2 separate regions of the Homo sapiens genome follow, and region 2 is linked to region 1. A link means that fine-mapping ties the variant in region 1 to the expression of a gene that starts in the linked region. Tissue or cell type: whole blood. Region 1 holds a variant in brackets; the other region holds the start of a gene. All regions are shown on one strand. Distances are from middle to middle.

Region 1 (8,101 bases):
AATAGAGATGTGGACATCTGTATCTTCACATTGATTATACTAGTACCTAAAATTAGTCCATATTCCAGCCAGGCGTGGTGGCTCACACCTGTAATCCCAGCACTTTGGGAGGCTGAGGCAGGTGGATCACCTGAAGTCAGGAGTTTGACACCAGCCTGACCAACATGGAGAAACCCCATCTCTACTAAAAATACAAAAATTAGCCGGGCATGGTGGCACACGCCTGTAATCTCAGCTACTAGGGAGGCTGAGGCAGGAGAATCATTTGAACCCAGTGGGTGGAGGTTGCAGTGAGCCAAGATTGCGCCACTTCACTCCAGTCTGGGCAAAAGAGCAAAACTCCATCCCAAAAAATATATAAAATAAAATAAAATAGGTCCATATTCCAATGTCCCCTTGTTCGGATGTCCCAATAATGTCCTTTATAGCGTTTTTCCCCCCAATGCAGGAACTAATCAAGGATTTGGCATTGACTTTTGTCACGTGTCTTGACTCCTTTAATCTAGAAAAGTTTCCTGGCTTTGTCTTCCGTGACACTGACTTTTGTTAAGACAAGGTCTCGCTCTGTCACCCAGGCTGGAGTACAGTGCCTCACTGCAACCTCTGCCTCCCGGGTTCAAGCAATTCTCCTGCCTTAGCCTCCCGAGTAGCTGGGATTACAGGCACCGGCCACCATGCCGGGCTAATGACACTGACGTTTTTGAAGTATCCATGTAGGTTGCTTGCAGGCAGCTCCCTGGTTTGTTTTTTGTTTGTTTGTTTTACAACTATGGGTCTCACTTTCTGAGTTGGGTGGCATGAGGTTGCCTCCCCAGCCATCGCCCTGGCTGCTGCGCCTGGAATTGAAATCTTGCCCTGAAGTGCCACCTAGTGGTCTTCTATGTGAAGGATTTTCTTTTTCCTCCCAGTTCTTATCCTGGAAAGCTCAGGCATGCTCCACGGCACTGAAAGGAAGATGGGTGGCTCACGCCTGTAATCCCAGCACTTTGGGAGGCCAAGGTGGGCGGATCGCTTGAGGCCGGGAGTTCAAGACCAGCCTAGGCAACATAGGGTAACCGTGCCTCTACAAAAAAAAAAAAAAAAAAAATAGCCAGGTGTGGTGCACGCCTGTAGTCCCAGCTACTCAGGCGGCTGAGGGGAAGGATGGCCTGAGCCCAGGAGGTCAAGGCTTCAGTGAGCTGTGATTGTGCCCCTACACTCCAGCCTGGGTGACAGAGTGAGACCCTGTCTCAAAAACAAACAAACAAACAGAAACGTGGCTGGGCATGGTGGCTCATGTCTGTAATCCCAGCACTTTGGGAGGCCAAGGTGGGAGGATCACTTGAAGTCAGGAGTTCGAGACCAGCCTGGCCAACATAGTGAAACCCCATCTCTACTAAAAATACAAAAATTAGCTAGGCGTGGTGGCAGGTGCCTGTAATCCCAGCTACTCAGGAAGATGAGGTGTGAGAATCATTTGAACCTGGAAGGTGGAGGTTGCAGTAAGCCGAGATCATGCCACTGCACTCCAGCCTAGGTGACAGAGTGAGATTACGCCTCAAAAAAAAAAACAAACAAAAAAAACACAAAAACCTGAACCTCGTGTAAGTACTCCACCCAGCAAGCAGGGATGGTCTCTGCAGTGTCCATGAGGTTGGGAGGGAGCGTGTGGCCATGACTCTTGCCTCAGCCCCCAGCCATGACCCTGACCCTGACCCCCTCCACTCCCAGGACTACATCCCCGTGGAGGGTGAGCTGCTGTTCCAGCCTGGGGAGGCCTGGAAAGAGCTGCAGGTGAAGCTCCTGGAGCTGCAAGAAGTTGACTCCCTCCTGCGGGGCCGCCAGGTCCGCCGTTTCCACGTCCAGCTCAGCAACCCTAAGTTTGGGGCCCACCTGGGCCAGCCCCACTCCACCACCATCATCATCAGGGACCCAGGTAGGCAGAGCCTGGGGGTCGGCTTAAGCAGGAGGAGAGGGAAGACTGGGGGGTCTCTCAACTAGGTCTGTCAGACTTAGCAAATCCAAACACAGGACGCCCAGGTAAATCTGAATTTCAGGTAAACAACATACACGTTGGTAGGATAAGTATGTCCCATGCAATATTTGGAACATACTTATCCTTTTTTTTGCAAAATGGGCTGGGTATACTGGCTCACACCTGTAATCCCAGCATTTTGGGAGGCCAAGGTGGGAGGATCACTTGAGCCCAGGAGTTCTAGACCAGCCTGGGCAACATAGTGAGACCTCGTCTCTACAAAAAATAAACAAATTAGCTTGGCATAGTGGTGTGCACCTGCAGTCCCAGCTATTCCGGAGACTGAGGTGGGAGGATCACTTGAGCCCAGGGGGTCTGGGCCGCAGCAAGCTGTGATCGCACCACTGCACAGCACCTGGGCCATGGAATGAGATCCTGTCCCCCAAGAAAAAATAATCTTGTTGTTTATCTGAAATTCAAATGTAACTAGGCATCCTGCATTTTATCTGGCAACCCTACAGCTAGAGAGGCTGTTGTCACCACACAATAGGAATTCTCCCATCAGACCCTGGCCCTTTGGCTTCAGCCTCAATTCCAACTAACATGCAGATGCTTGTGGAAGGAAGGAGTGGGCCAGTTAGTTCCTATCAGCCCTCAGCCTCCCAACTGGGAGAAAGCCTGCCAGGAAGATGGGAGAGGAGGGAGATACTCAGGGTACAGTGTGGAGATGGGGTGGGGAGCAAATGTTCTCATGTGGAATGTTCCCTGAGCTGCCAAGGGAGAAAGGGGCAGACCAACTCCCTCCCGCTTCTGTTCCTCCAGAGACCCTCCTGGGTCCTCCGCCAAGCTTGGCAGGATGCTCTATGTGGCAGCAATGGGGCACCACCAGGTCTCCAGAGACGCGGGTGGGCAGGTCTGAGTTGAATGCGCTGGGTAGAGCGCCCTGGGTGTTGAAGTGGGTCTCTGGCGCCCCCTGGTGGTGAAGGGGGATCTGAGTGGTTGCCCGGCCCCAACCTGACCCGTTAGATGAACTGGACCGGAGCTTCACGAGTCAGATGTTGTCATCACAGCCACCCCCTCACGGCGACCTGGGCGCCCCGCAGAACCCCAATGCTAAGGCCGCTGGGTCCAGGAAGATCCATTTCAACTGGCTGCCCCCTTCTGGCAAGCCAATGGGGTACAGGGTAAGGCGGGGGGCTGAGGGTCACGACAGGTGGATGGGCGGTCTGGCACCAGCACTCACAGAAGAGGTGGGCCGTCCAAGGCCAGGGCCCCCTGAGAGAGAGCAGACAGTGGAACCTAGCACAGGTGGTCAGAGGGAAACCCGGTCTGTGCTGGGAAAGAGGGAAGACCCATTCCTGAGTTTATCAGACATTTGCCCTCCTTCCTAGAATGGGGCCCCCTCCCACCCCCGCATGGGAGATACCCCCACCTGCTCTGCCCTAGTCCTGACGTGTGCACATGGCAGATCTCTCAGCCCC[T/C]CCCTCGGGCCTCATCTGTGCAAAGAGGACAGTAAGGGCAGAGGTCAGAGGAGGGACAGGCAGCTTGGGTGCCTGCTGCTCCCTGCTGACCAGGACCCCTGTCCCTGGGGGTAGGTAAAGTACTGGATTCAGGGTGACTCCGAATCCGAAGCCCACCTGCTCGACAGCAAGGTGCCCTCAGTGGAGCTCACCAACCTGTACCCGTATTGCGACTATGAGATGAAGGTGTGCGCCTACGGGGCTCAGGGCGAGGGACCCTACAGCTCCCTGGTGTCCTGCCGCACCCACCAGGAAGGTGAGGCCTCGCCATGTCTGTCCATTTGTCCCCTGGCTGCCCTGATGCCAGCATGCCCAGACCTCCCTCCCTCTGCCACTGACAGCACTCTTCCTGTATTCCCCGCTCCCTAGTGCCCAGCGAGCCAGGGCGTCTGGCCTTCAATGTCGTCTCCTCCACGGTGACCCAGCTGAGCTGGGCTGAGCCGGCTGAGACCAACGGTGAGATCACAGCCTACGAGGTCTGCTATGGCCTGGTCAACGATGACAACCGTAAGAACCAGATCCTTCTTTCCTGCCCACAGGGAGAACAGCCATGGAAGGGGAGGGGACAAAGCTGGAGGGAGCTCTTGGTCACTCCCTGGACCTGCTGTGCAGGGCACTCGAGGCCTTCATCCTGGTCAGCGGATAAGCCTGAGGCATCTTTAGGGTTTTGGCCAGATTTGGGCTGGGTTGCATTCTAAGACCAAACCCAGAAGGTTGCAGGGTGGGTGGTTACCTATGTGGAGTGAGGTCACAGGCCCAGGGGTACCCCTCCCCATGCAGGTAACCAGGGAGCTCACACGTGCATGGTTTTCTTAGGGTGAGAGGAAAGTTACCGGATTTAGCAAACAGAAATACAGGAGGTTCTGAATTTCAGATAGCACTTTAAAAGATTATTTTGTACATTGAGAGGCCGAGGCAGGTGGACTGCTTGAGGTCAGGAGTTCAAGACCAGCCTGGCTAACATGGTGAAACCGTTTCTACTAAAAATTAGACAGGCATGGTGGCTCATGCCTGTAGTCCCAGCTAGTCAGGAGGCTGAGGCAGGAGAATCACTTGAACCCAGAAGGCGCAGGTTGCAGTGAACCGAGATCGTGTTACCGCACTCCAGACAGGGTGACAGAGCCAGACTCCGTCTAAAAATAAATAAATAAAAAGGATTATTTTATACATTATTTTATCTAGCAGCCCGAGATCAGAGGTGCCTAGCAGAACAGTTATTTCTCCAGTCCTGGAAGGGAGGCAGGGTGGGCAACCCCTATGCGTGCCCTTGCCTTGTGTGGAGGCACCGTGGATATATGGGTAGAGGTGACATCGAGGCCAACTTGAGTCCAGCCCTGGCTCTGCCACTTACTCAGCAGAGTCCCTTGGAGGACTGGTGACATATGTCCACGCCAGTCATGCTGACGCTCAGGGCTCCGCAGGCGGCAATTCAGCAGTGGCTGGCTTTGCCTTGCTTCCCCAGCCCCTGGGTGCCATCCAGGGGATGCACGGCCGTCCTGCTGTGTCAGGGGTGGTGTTGGGACCAGGCTGGGACCTGGGTGACCCTCTGAAGCACTCTCTCTGCCCCAGGACCTATTGGGCCCATGAAGAAAGTGCTGGTTGACAACCCTAAGAACCGGATGCTGCTTATTGAGAACCTTCGGGAGTCCCAGCCCTACCGCTACACGGTGAAGGCGCGCAACGGGGCCGGCTGGGGGCCTGAGCGGGAGGCCATCATCAACCTGGCCACCCAGCCCAAGAGGCCCATGTCCAGTGAGTGGTGGGCAGGGAGGTGAGGGGCAGACCGGGCAGGGGGGCAGGGGGCAGCAGCCAGGGCCCTGGCTCACTCCCCTGCCCTGCAGTCCCCATCATCCCTGACATCCCTATCGTGGACGCCCAGAGCGGGGAGGACTACGACAGCTTCCTTATGTACAGCGATGACGTTCTACGCTCTCCATCGGGCAGCCAGAGGCCCAGCGTCTCCGATGACACTGGTGAGTGGAGACCTGGGACCCACAAGAGGACAGTGGGGGTCTTGGGTACAGAGTGAGTCCACTGGGTCCAGAGAGGGCAAAGGGGCCAGCAACTAGAGGACATGGAGGTTAAGGCAGCCTTGGACAAATGCAATGGAGTGCACATCTGTGCATGGGGCACAGGAACCAGTGCCTGGGGGACAGACACACACAGCCTTGTGCAAGCGCACATGAGTTCATGCCCACGGGACCACGAAGAAACACAGCTTCACAAGTTGAAGGTTCACCAGCTGTGCCATGCACACAGGACACTCAGGCCACCCCCCAGGGGCAGGCCTGGCCCAGGAGCCCTGGGCAGCCACCAGGCGGCCACCTGGCAGGGGTAGGGGAGCCAAGGAGACAAGAACACCCCCAACAGCTCTGTCCTTCCTCCTTGATTCCCAGCACAAAGTGCTGCGGAGCCCTTAGCTGGGCCTCCTGAGTGCTCAGTGTCAGCTGTGGCTCCACCTGTGGGACATCAGATGAATCACTCATCCTTTCCATGCCTCACTTTTCTGCTCTGTATAATGGGATACCAATCACACAGTACCATGAGTGGAAAAACCTCTGGGGCACGTATATCTTTTGTATTTTCTTCTGTCCCTGCCGATGCCTCAAGCTGCCCCCGGTGAACACATACTGGCCCCCACGGGGCTCAGCTTGGGCTTAAGGAGCCATTTTGAGGGGTTCAGGTGGAGCGCAGCTGGTGTGACTCTGGAACCCCAGCTCAGCTGCTTCTAACACTACCTGCGAAGCGCTCGGTGGCTTGCGGAACGGTCCCTGGGAGGCGGGCAGGGGCAAGATTCCTCTCTCCATTGTACAAACGGGAAACTGAGTCTCGGAGAGGTTAAGTAAAGCAAGGGAGACCTCACAGCTGGTGACAGAGCCCAGACTTCCCCCAGGTTTCTGGCGGGTCCGGGGGTCTCTCCTCCCCAGCTGTGCCGAGGCTGCACTCGCTCATCTGGAAAGGCTTCAGCCGCGCAAGGGTTTCACCTGCCGCGGCCTTCCCGCTCCGGCCGTGCGCATCTACCCCCGCCCCCAACACACACCCCGGGATCCCGGGAGCTGGAGACGGGCTCCCCTCGCAGAGCCTACGGCCTTCCCCCGCCTGGCCCTGCTCGGCCCGGCGCCCCCCGGCGGTGCCAACGCGGCCCTTCGTTGTTCCCAAGGCTGCGGCTGGAAGTTCGAGCCCCTGCTGGGGGAGGAGCTGGACCTGCGGCGCGTCACGTGGCGGCTGCCCCCGGAGCTCATCCCGCGCCTGTCGGCCAGCAGCGGGCGCTCCTCCGACGCCGAGGCGCCCCACGGGCCCCCGGACGACGGCGGCGCGGGCGGGAAGGGCGGCAGCCTGCCCCGCAGTGCGACACCCGGGCCCCCCGGAGGTGACAGGCTCACCCGCCGCCCCCCGATCCGCGCCCACCCAGCCTCACTCGCGCCTGAGGGCCTGGGGTGGGCGTCTGCGCTGCCTCGGGGGCCCCAGTTTCAGCCAGGCCCGGGCCTTGGCGGCTGGGAGCACAGCTGCTCAGAGGCAGGGCCCAGTGCCAGGGGACGCGTGAGGCAGGCGCTTGGGCCCTTATGGTGCCTGCCTGGCCAGGGGGTGCAAATTCAGAAGTCTGCCCGGGAAGCGGACCCTGGCACCCAAGTAGACCCCTCAGGGGCCTCAAAGGACAGGAGGGAAGGCTTGGGGATCTCCCCAGGGCAGAGCTGACTGCAGACGCAGCAAACCCCCGCCACTGCCAGGGTCAGCAGTGCTCACACCGATAGAGTGGCCGGCCAGAGGATATGGGCTGTGGAAGCCTGGGTGGCCCTTGGGCTCCTGCAGGGACAGAGGGCCTCTGTCCCTAGTGGTTTGAGGGAAACTGGTTGTATTTAAGCAAAAGCCACCCAGAGGGTGGGTGACCAGGAATGTGCAGGGCCCAGCCTGCCCCACGGGGCCCGGGTCTGGGGCAGGCCTGACCAAGGGACCCTGCTCTCCCCCTGCAGAGCACCTGGTGAATGGCCGGATGGACTTTGCCTTCCCGGGCAGCACCAACTCCCTGCACAGGATGACCACGACCAGTGCTGCTGCCTATGGCACCCACCTGAGCCCACACGTGCCCCACCGCGTGCTAAGCACATCCTCCACCCTCACACGGGACTACAACTCACTGACCCGCTCAGAACACTCACACTCGACCACACTGCCCAGGGACTACTCCACCCTCACCTCCGTCTCCTCCCACGGTGAGTGACCTCAGCCAACCCTGCCTCTCCCACTAACCCTTCCTCTCTTCCAGCTCCTGGAGCCTCGGGCTTCTGTCTGCTGTCCCCACCGCCCATTCTCCAACATACACACACGCATGCACACATGCACGCACACACGTGCACACGCATGCACACATGTACACAGACATGCATGCGCACACGTACACACATGCATGCACACTCCCTGCTCCTCTCACTCTTGTTTTGTCCTGCCCTAGGCCTCCCTCCCATCTGGGAACACGGGAGGAGCAGGCTTCCGCTGTCCTGGGCCCTGGGGTCCCGGAGTCGGGCTCAGATGAAAGGGTTCCCCCCTTCCAGGGGCCCACGAGACTCTATAATCCTGGCTGGGAGGCCAGCAGCGCCCTCCTGGGGCCCAGGTAGTACAGGGGTGGCCA
Region 2 (8,101 bases), 30 kb before region 1:
TGGCGGGTGCCTGTAGTCCCAGCTACTCCGGAGGCTGAGGCAGGAGAATGGGGTGAACCTGGGAGGCGGAGCTTGCAGTGAGCTGAGATCGTGCCACTGCACTACAGCTTGGGCGACAGAGCGAGACTCTGTCTCAAAAAAAAAAAAAAAGTAATGTAGGGCAGGGGATGGGATGGTGAGGGTTCTATTTTAGAATGACAAAGAGACAAAACAATCAAATGCAATAGGTGGCATGGATTGGACTCAAATTCAAAAGGAAACCTTTATAATAGACATTTTGGAGTCAACTAAGAAAATTTGAATATGGACTGAATCACACATCATTTAATGGAGACATTATTTCCTTAGGTGTGAAAAGGGGCCGGGCTCAGTGGCTCACACCTGTAATCCCAGCATTTTGGGAGGCCAAGGCGGGCAGATCACCTGAGGTCAGGAGTTCAAGACCAGCCTGGCCAACACGGCGAAACCCCGTCTCTACAAAAAATACAAAAATTTAGCTGGGCGTGGTGGCATGCACCTGTAGTCCCAGCTACTCGGGAGGCTGAGGTAGAATTGCTTGAACCCAGAAGACAGAGGCTGCAGTGAGCCGAGATTGCACCATTGTACTCCAGCCTGGGCAACAAGAGCAAAATTCTGTCTCAAAAAAATAAAGGGGGGTATTGAGGTTACGTGGGGGACTGTTCTTGAGAGATACATGCTGGAGTGTTTAGGATGAAATGGCAGGATAAGTGCAACTTCAAATTTAAAAATATACAAATGTTTAACAAATATATAAATAAATACAGCAAAATATTATTCTTGAGTCTAGTTGGTAAAAATACGGGTGATTTTTGTATTCTTTCAACTTTTTGGGGCATGGTGGCTCACGCCTGCAATCCTTGCACTTTGGGAGGCTGAAACGGGAGGATTGCTTGAGCCCAGGAGTTCAAGACCAACCTGAGCAACATGGTGAAACTCTGTCTCTACAAAATAAAAATTAAAAACTTATCCAGGATTTGTGGCACACACCTGTAGTCTCAGCTACTCAGGAAGCTGAGGTGGGAGGATCACTGGAGCCCAGGAGGTTGAGGCTGCAGGGAGCCTCGATCGTGGCACTGCCCTCCAGCCTAGGCAGCAGAGTAAGACCCTGTCTCAAAAAAGAGGGGGCCTATTGAGCAACCCCTTGGCTCTGAGGAGAAAACAAACCCCAGGATTCTGCACCGGAGAGGCCTCTGCCCCCAGTCTGAACATGTGGTTGATGCGGGCTCTCCAGACAGGTCACTGGACTCTTTCCACCACACATCCCCTGTCTATTTATTCTTTAACTTGTTCTTTTATAAAACAGGTGCCAATCTACCAATAAGTAATGTACATTCTCAAGTATAAGAATAGGGGCTCAGGGCTGGGCGCAATGACTCACGCCTGTAATCCCAACACTTTGGGAGGACAAGGCAGACGGATCACCTGAAGTCAGGAGTTCAAGACCAGCCTGGTCAACATGGTGAAACCCCATGTCTACTAAAAATACAAAAATTAGCTGGGCATGGTGGTGCGTGCCTGTAATCCCAGCTACTCAGGAGGCTGAGGCAGGAGAATCGCTTGAACCCAGGAGGCAGAGTTGCAGTGAGCCGAGATTGCACCACTGCACTCCAGCCTGGACGACAGAGTGAGACTCCATCTCAAAAGAAAAAAAAAAAAAAAGAATAGGGTCTCAGCTAGCACCTACCTCGAGAATACTCAGCCTACTTTGGAGACCCCTGGTTTGAACTGGGAGTGAAGGAAGCAGGCCGTAGTTCTCGTTCATCTTGGTATCCCCAGCATTTGGCATAGGAGCTCATTAACTGCTCATAAAATGAATAAATAATTGAACTAATGAATGAACAAGTCTGACCTACTGGAGGCCACATGAGGAGTGCAGGGGAGTGGAGGAGCAACAATCCAAGGTCCTTGGGCTCGGTCCTGTTCCAGGGGCCTCACCTCTCTTGCAGAGCCTAGGAAGCCCCCTATGAGCCAACCTCACTCTGGCCCTAAGGCTGCAGAGATAGTGGGGTTTATTTTAGTTTTATAAAATTCACATGCAGGCTGGGAGCAGTGGCTCACGCCTGTAATCCCAGCACTTTGGGAGGCTGAGGTGGGTGGATCACTTGACATCAAGAATTTGAAACCAGCGTGGCCAACATGGTGAAACCCCAACTCTGCTAATAATACAAAATTAGCTAGGCGTGGTGGTGTGCACCTGTGATCCCAGCTACTCGGGAGGCTGAGGCAGGAGAATCGCTTGAACCCAGGAGGCAGGGGTTGCAGTGAGCCAGGATCGCACCACTGCACTCTAGCCTGGGCAATAGAGTAAGACTCCATCTCAATGACAACAACAAAAAAAATCACATGCAATATTTAAACTTCTGGGGCCAGTAACCTATTTGGGAATCCAGTGTAAGCTAAGGCTCCCCTCCCAGCAAACCCACATTCTGAAATCAGATACTCCTCAAAGTTTGCACAAGATCTGAGATGGTTCAGGGACTCCCCACTGCCAAGTCCACATGCGGGCTCCAGGTAATGAACCCCAGGACTCCGAGAAGCCAAGGAAGCTCATGGCTTATCTTACTTAGTGAGACCTCCCTGGGTTGACATCTCGCCTCTCAGCTGCTACAGGGCTCCAGGCCCCCTAGTCATTTTCAGAAGGGTTTGCAATGAAGAGAGGAAGGGGCTGCTGAGCCCAGTGGCCTGGGGCATCGCCAGCTCTGGACCTGGGTCTTCTCTAGGAAGAAGCCTCAGCCCCCACCCACAGTGGGGTGTATATGACCCCCTAGTTCTCTAATGGGTGCTGCTGGCAGACCCAGGCCCCTCAGGCAAGCTGTTTTTGGCCGTTCTCTGAGCTCCTGCTCCATGTTTCTGTTTTTTGGGGTGGATAGGTACCTGCTGGAGTGACTCAGGTCCACAGGGCACTTGTGCTGGCCTGACACACACAGATCTGAGTGCTTCAACCAAACTGGGACTCCTTCCACATTGTTCCCAAATCCAGGAGCAAGCCTCTCTGAACACTTTCTCTGTGCAGAACAGCTCTCAGATGACCAGGAAAGGTGGCGACTCACACATTTGCAACCAGCACCCCTGCAATCACTCTGAGAGGTAGCAGTGGAGGAATCTGTTTACAGATGACAGCATGGAGGCTCAGGGAGGCTGTGTGACCATCCCATTCACTCAACCACCCTTTTATTGAGCACCTGCTATGCACCAGGCATGGTGCTAGGTGCTAGAGAGTAGCTGCCCTTGGAGTCACAGTCCAACAGTGTGGCGAGATTCCTAAACATCATTTCAAACCAATGTGGCAAATGCCATGTAAAAGCCATGGCCCAAGGGTTATGGGGACACATAAACCAACTTGGGGTGTGGAGAGGTCAAGGAAGGCTCTCTAGCACGTGGTTGGTGCAACGTCTTCAAGGACAAGAAGGATAAACTGGGCTCAATGTCATGGGAAGGGACCAGCCTGTTGAAAAAGCACGGTGGCTTGAAACCGCATGGTTTGGACAGTGCTGTGCCAGCAGTCTGGTGTTGTTTGGCATTGCTGGCCAGTAAGCCTAGAGAAAAATGGAGCCCTGGCTGGGCATGGTGGTTCACGCCTATAATCCCAGCACTTTGGAAGGCCAAGACGGGTGGATCACCTGAGGTCAGGAGTTCGAGACCAGCCTGGCCAACATGATGTACTAAAAATACAAAAATTAGCCGGGCGTGGTGGCGGGCACCTGTAATCCCAGCTACTCGGGAAACAGGCAGGAGAAGCGCTTGAACCCGGGAGGCAGAGGTTGCAGTGAGCCAAGATTGCACCACTGCACTCCAGCCTCGGCGACAGAGTGAGACTCCATCTAAAAAAAAAAAGAGAGAGAAAACAAAAAGAAAAAGAAAAATGAAGCCCTTCTCTGACCTGAACACCCGTGGTAAGCAGTGGCAATGGAGAGACTGCTCTCAGAGGACTGACGGGAGGGAGGGGCCAGCTCTGTAACCAGCTTGTTAAGAACAACTGTAACAAGGCATCGAGTGCCAATCCATGCCAGGTCGGCACTGACCTCTCCAGGGTATCACTGTTCACACTGTAAGGAGATTTAAGTAGCTTGTTGAAGGGTGCACCGAGGACCCGACCCTTCCTCGGCTCTCCCTCTGGATACAACGTGAGGTTAGGGGTTGGAGGCTGAGAGGACCCCGTGAACTGCAGAGCAGAGCTGGGACGGGGAGTCAGGCCTCCCGACCGGGCCGGGGGCACTCCCTGGGCCCATGCCTCGCGCTGGCACGGAGAGCGGGGAGGGGGGTACGCGGCTGACGACCGTCGGGGCAGCAGCAGCAGCACAGCCCGGCGTTGGCTAGCGGCCCAGAGTCGGGGCAGGGAGGGTTCCCGTGCGGACGGGGGCTAAGAGGCCGCCTCCAGCCCGGGGCAGTCCGCGCACCCGAGCCTGGAGCCCGGAGCCTGGAGGGGTGGGGAGGCCCCGCGCCCAGGGCCGGACCGGAGGGAGAGGGAGAGCGGTGGCTCCTCCCCCGGCCCCCGCCGCTAGCCGATCGGGGCGCTGGGCGGGCGCCGCGGGAGCCGCAGCCCTTTCCGGGGGGCGGACCCGGCTCCGGCGGCGGCACCCAGCTCCTGCCCCGACAGGTGCGCGCCGCGCGAAGGAATGCAGCCGGTCTGACTCACCAGCGCCTCCTTCCTACCTGCGCGCCCGCCCCATAAAGCGCTGCCCGCCTCGTCCCCACCCCCCCAACCCCCGCGCCCGCCCTCGGACAGTCCCTGCTCGCCCGCGCGCTGCAGCCCCATCTCCTAGCGGCAGCCCAGGCGCGGAGGGAGCGAGTCCGCCCCGAGGTAGGTCCAGGACGGGCGCACAGCAGCAGCCGAGGCTGGCCGGGAGAGGGTGAGTGCCCGCCCCAGCTGGGCAGCCGCGCAGGGGAGCTGGTCGGGCAGGGCCGGTGGCTTTTGTCTCCCCTTCCCCTCCCTGAAGGCTGACAGGCCCCGGTCCCTCTGTCCACGCTGCGCAGGACAGGTGCCCAGCCTCCCCGGGGTGCGCCGGGGGCAGCTGGCAGCCAAGGGGCAGGGCAGCTAGAGAAGGGTGGTGCCCATCAGACCTCCAGGCCAGAGGAGCGCCTTGGGTGCGCCTGCGGGAGAAGTGGGCAGAGGCCAGTGGCTGGTAGCCCTCTGGGGCTGGGCCCCTCCAGGGTTTGCAAAGAAGGTGGAGTAGACACCAGCCTGAGTGCTGGGCCCAGCCCATCATGGCGCATCTAATGATAAACCAACATTCCTGACTTTTATGTGAAATTTCGTTCTTTCTAACATTGGCTCCTACTTTTAAAAGCCACCCTGAGAGGCAGACGCCATCCCGGCTCCAGGCAGGGCTTGCTCTATGCGGTGCCACAGTCCATCTGGGGCTGGGGAGTCCCTGATTTTCCTTTTCTCTTGGCCAAGCACAGGCCTGCCTTCCTCCCAAAGTCAGCCCCAGGCGCCTTCCTTCAGGAAGCTCTACAGGCCTCACCCACCAGCCCCAGGGCTGTGCCCAACACTGCCACCTCCTGCAGCATCCGCCCTCTTTCCCATGGCTCAGCCTCTGGGGTGGCCCTCTGGCTGGGACTGGGGCTCTGGGGCTCCTGGTGACTCCCAGGAGCAGGGACAGGGCTTCTCCTCTGCCCCCATGGCCTTGCCACACCCTGAGGACAAGGACCAGGCACAGGTGGCATGGTTGTTGCTGTCCGAAACAGAGCTGGCAGTGAAGGCTTGGAGTCTCCATCCTGGGGGCTGAGGGAAGGACAGCAGGAGGGACAGGAGGGGAGGTATGTCTGTCTACTCGACCCTGATTTCTCAGGGAGACAGAACAGCCAAGGGCCTGGGGTCCCCAGACTTCTGGCCAGCTGCCTCTCTGGGGCGAGGAAGGGCCTGGGTCCCTGAGGGGAGGAGATGTGACAGCGGGAGAGGATAGTGGACAGGAGCAGGTGTGCCCAGAGGGGTCCCCAGGGGTTGGGATGGGGGCCAGGGGAGCTCTGAGCCTGTGGGTGGGTGGGCATGGCCTGTGTGTGTGTGTGTGTGTGTGTGTGTGTGTGTGTCCCTGTGGGGGGGAAACTGCCTGTGCTGCAGTGTGATGGCATTCAGGGTGGCAGTCACACACTCCAGGGACCTGCTGGTACATAAAGTCGGGGCAGCCTGGTGGGGTCCGGGCCGCCTGGAGAGTAGGTGTCCTGAGCGCTGGGCCCAGCCCATCGTGATACATCTAATGATAAACACAAATTCCTAACTTTTATGGGAAATCTCGTTGTTTCTAACATTGGCTCCTACTTTTAAAACTTTCTAAACAAATGAAGCCAAACACTCTTGGGTGCCTCGCCAACCCTCTAACTGCCATTTTGTAGCTTCTGCGTGGAGGCTGCCATGGAGGTTAAAGGCAGGGCCTGCAGAGCAGGGCCCTGTCCTGGCCCTCCCAGTGCTGTCCGCGGGATGGGGAAGTTCCACAGCCTTCTGTGCCTGGTCTCTCATCTGGGAAACGGGCAGAATGAAATCATCTCCCGCCGGGCTCCTGTGCTGAGCAATCTCCTCCGTGAAGCCCTGGGCTCATATGGCAGTCACAGTGTGGGAATCAGCACTGCCTGAGGGGCTGTGGCCAGGGACAGTGGGAGGAAGAGCTGGGCTCAGCTCTCCAGGCCTGTACCTGCCTGTGTAATGATGCCTGGGAGGCCTGAGCCTGCAGCCTGTATTGTGTAGCATGTGGGTGTGGCGGCTACACCCCGAGGCTGCAAGGAAGTCATTTCCCTCTAGGAACCCTGCTGTCCCCACCCTTTCCCTGCTGGCTCAGGGCTGCCTCCCAGTCCCTGTGCCACAACAGGTCTGACCTGCATGTGTTGGCGCTGCTGTGGCCTCCTCCAGGCTGCACGCCTTAGAAGCAGGCTACGCCTTCCTGCCCTTGGCCTGAGAAGGGCTTCTCCAGCACCTCGGGGACCCCAGCCCCCAGACCCTGGGGTGGCCACTGCCCCAGAAGCCGGGCTGAGACAGGATTCAATGGGGAGGGCCCGTGGGCAGGGCAGAGGCTTGGGCCCCTGGGAGACCTGGCCCTAGAGAAAGAGGCGCGGTGCTCACCTTTGCCCCGGCCTTGCAGGCCTGGATGGCTCTGCCGCCAGCCTCTTTTCTTGTCCAGGCTTCAGGCTGAGCATCTCTTAGAGGGCCTCAGGGATGTCCAGTCCTGCCCTGAAGGCCGCTGAGGACTTAGGATGGTTTAATACTGAACCCACAGCCGCTGGGGACGCCTTGAGGGGAGCCACAGTGTGTGTGCATGTCTCACTCTGGGCTAACTTGTGAAAGGGTGAACAGCTCAGGGGCCCAGAAAACTTAACTCTGGGGCAGGCAGAGGTACAGGGGAGGGCAGATGATTCAGACCCCACCCTGATGGGCCGGGCAGTCACTGCAGAACCCAACCCGGTGCAGTAAGCCACTGCGGGCAGCTGTGGCCCAGCCCCAGGCCCCAGATATTGGGAGGGGCCCCTCTCCTCCCGGCTGTGCCACCCTCACCAAAGGGTAAGTGGGCCAGGACAGAAGGAGCAGGAGGCAGAGCTGCGGCCCCCTCTCAGGGAGGCACCCTCATTGGATGACCCTGTCATGGCCAAGCCTGACCCAGGCTCACTGGGAGCTAAAAGGCAAAGAAGAATAAACCCACATCTGCCCTCAGGGAGCCCAGTGCTGAGAGGCCTGGCACTGGGACAAACTCGCAAACCAGAGTCCTTGAGGGCTGGAGGGGGCCTCCCGGGGCAGGGCATAGGCCACTGCAGGGATGGCACGGAACAGGGCAGCGGAAAAGGCAGGAGTCCGAGGCCCAGGGCCCTGCCTCTGGCGGCTGGGCGCCCTTGGTCACATTGTTGGTGCTCAGAGCCTCAGTTCCCACAGCTGTGCAGCGAGAGGAAGCTGACGGCACCGACCATGGCTGTGGAGGCCTCATGTGTCAATTGTTGCTGTTCTGCAGGAGGAAGAGGATGGCAGGGCCACGCCCCAGCCCATGGGCCAGGCTGCTCCTGGCAGCCTTGATCAGCGTCAGCCTCTCTGGGACCTTGGGTGAGTCCACGTTGCCCTGCAGCCCCCTCCTGGCAGGATCATCCCTTGGGCAGGCATTGC

Evidence for each region. PIP is the estimated chance that this variant, and not a neighbour inherited with it, causes the effect.
Region 2: ITGB4 starts here. The variant in region 1 is fine-mapped to the expression of ITGB4 in whole blood (TOPMed, PIP above 0.99).

What each region holds. Positions count from the first base shown.
Region 1 is chr17:75,747,131-75,755,231 of GRCh38, forward strand. ITGB4 (integrin subunit beta 4) reads left to right here. Exons shown (of 40, transcript NM_000213.5): 27 at 1,711-1,915; 28 at 2,981-3,138; 29 at 3,550-3,730; 30 at 3,844-3,981; 31 at 5,044-5,226; 32 at 5,316-5,447; 33 at 6,635-6,844; 34 at 7,446-7,685. It also overlaps a transcript of GALK1 not described here. Among named protein-coding and RNA genes, the nearest start is that of GALK1, 14 kb to the right of the region's middle. RefSeq lists a silencer at 6,440-7,049 and an enhancer at 6,637-7,410. The variant T/C (reference allele first, on the strand shown) is at 3,436.
Region 2 is chr17:75,716,742-75,724,842 of GRCh38, forward strand. ITGB4 (integrin subunit beta 4) reads left to right here and starts at 4,718. Exons shown (of 40, transcript NM_000213.5): 1 at 4,718-4,871; 2 at 7,953-8,041. The coding sequence starts at 7,963. RefSeq lists silencers at 4,281-4,340, 4,351-4,740 and enhancers at 4,461-4,999, 5,000-5,538, 6,453-7,004.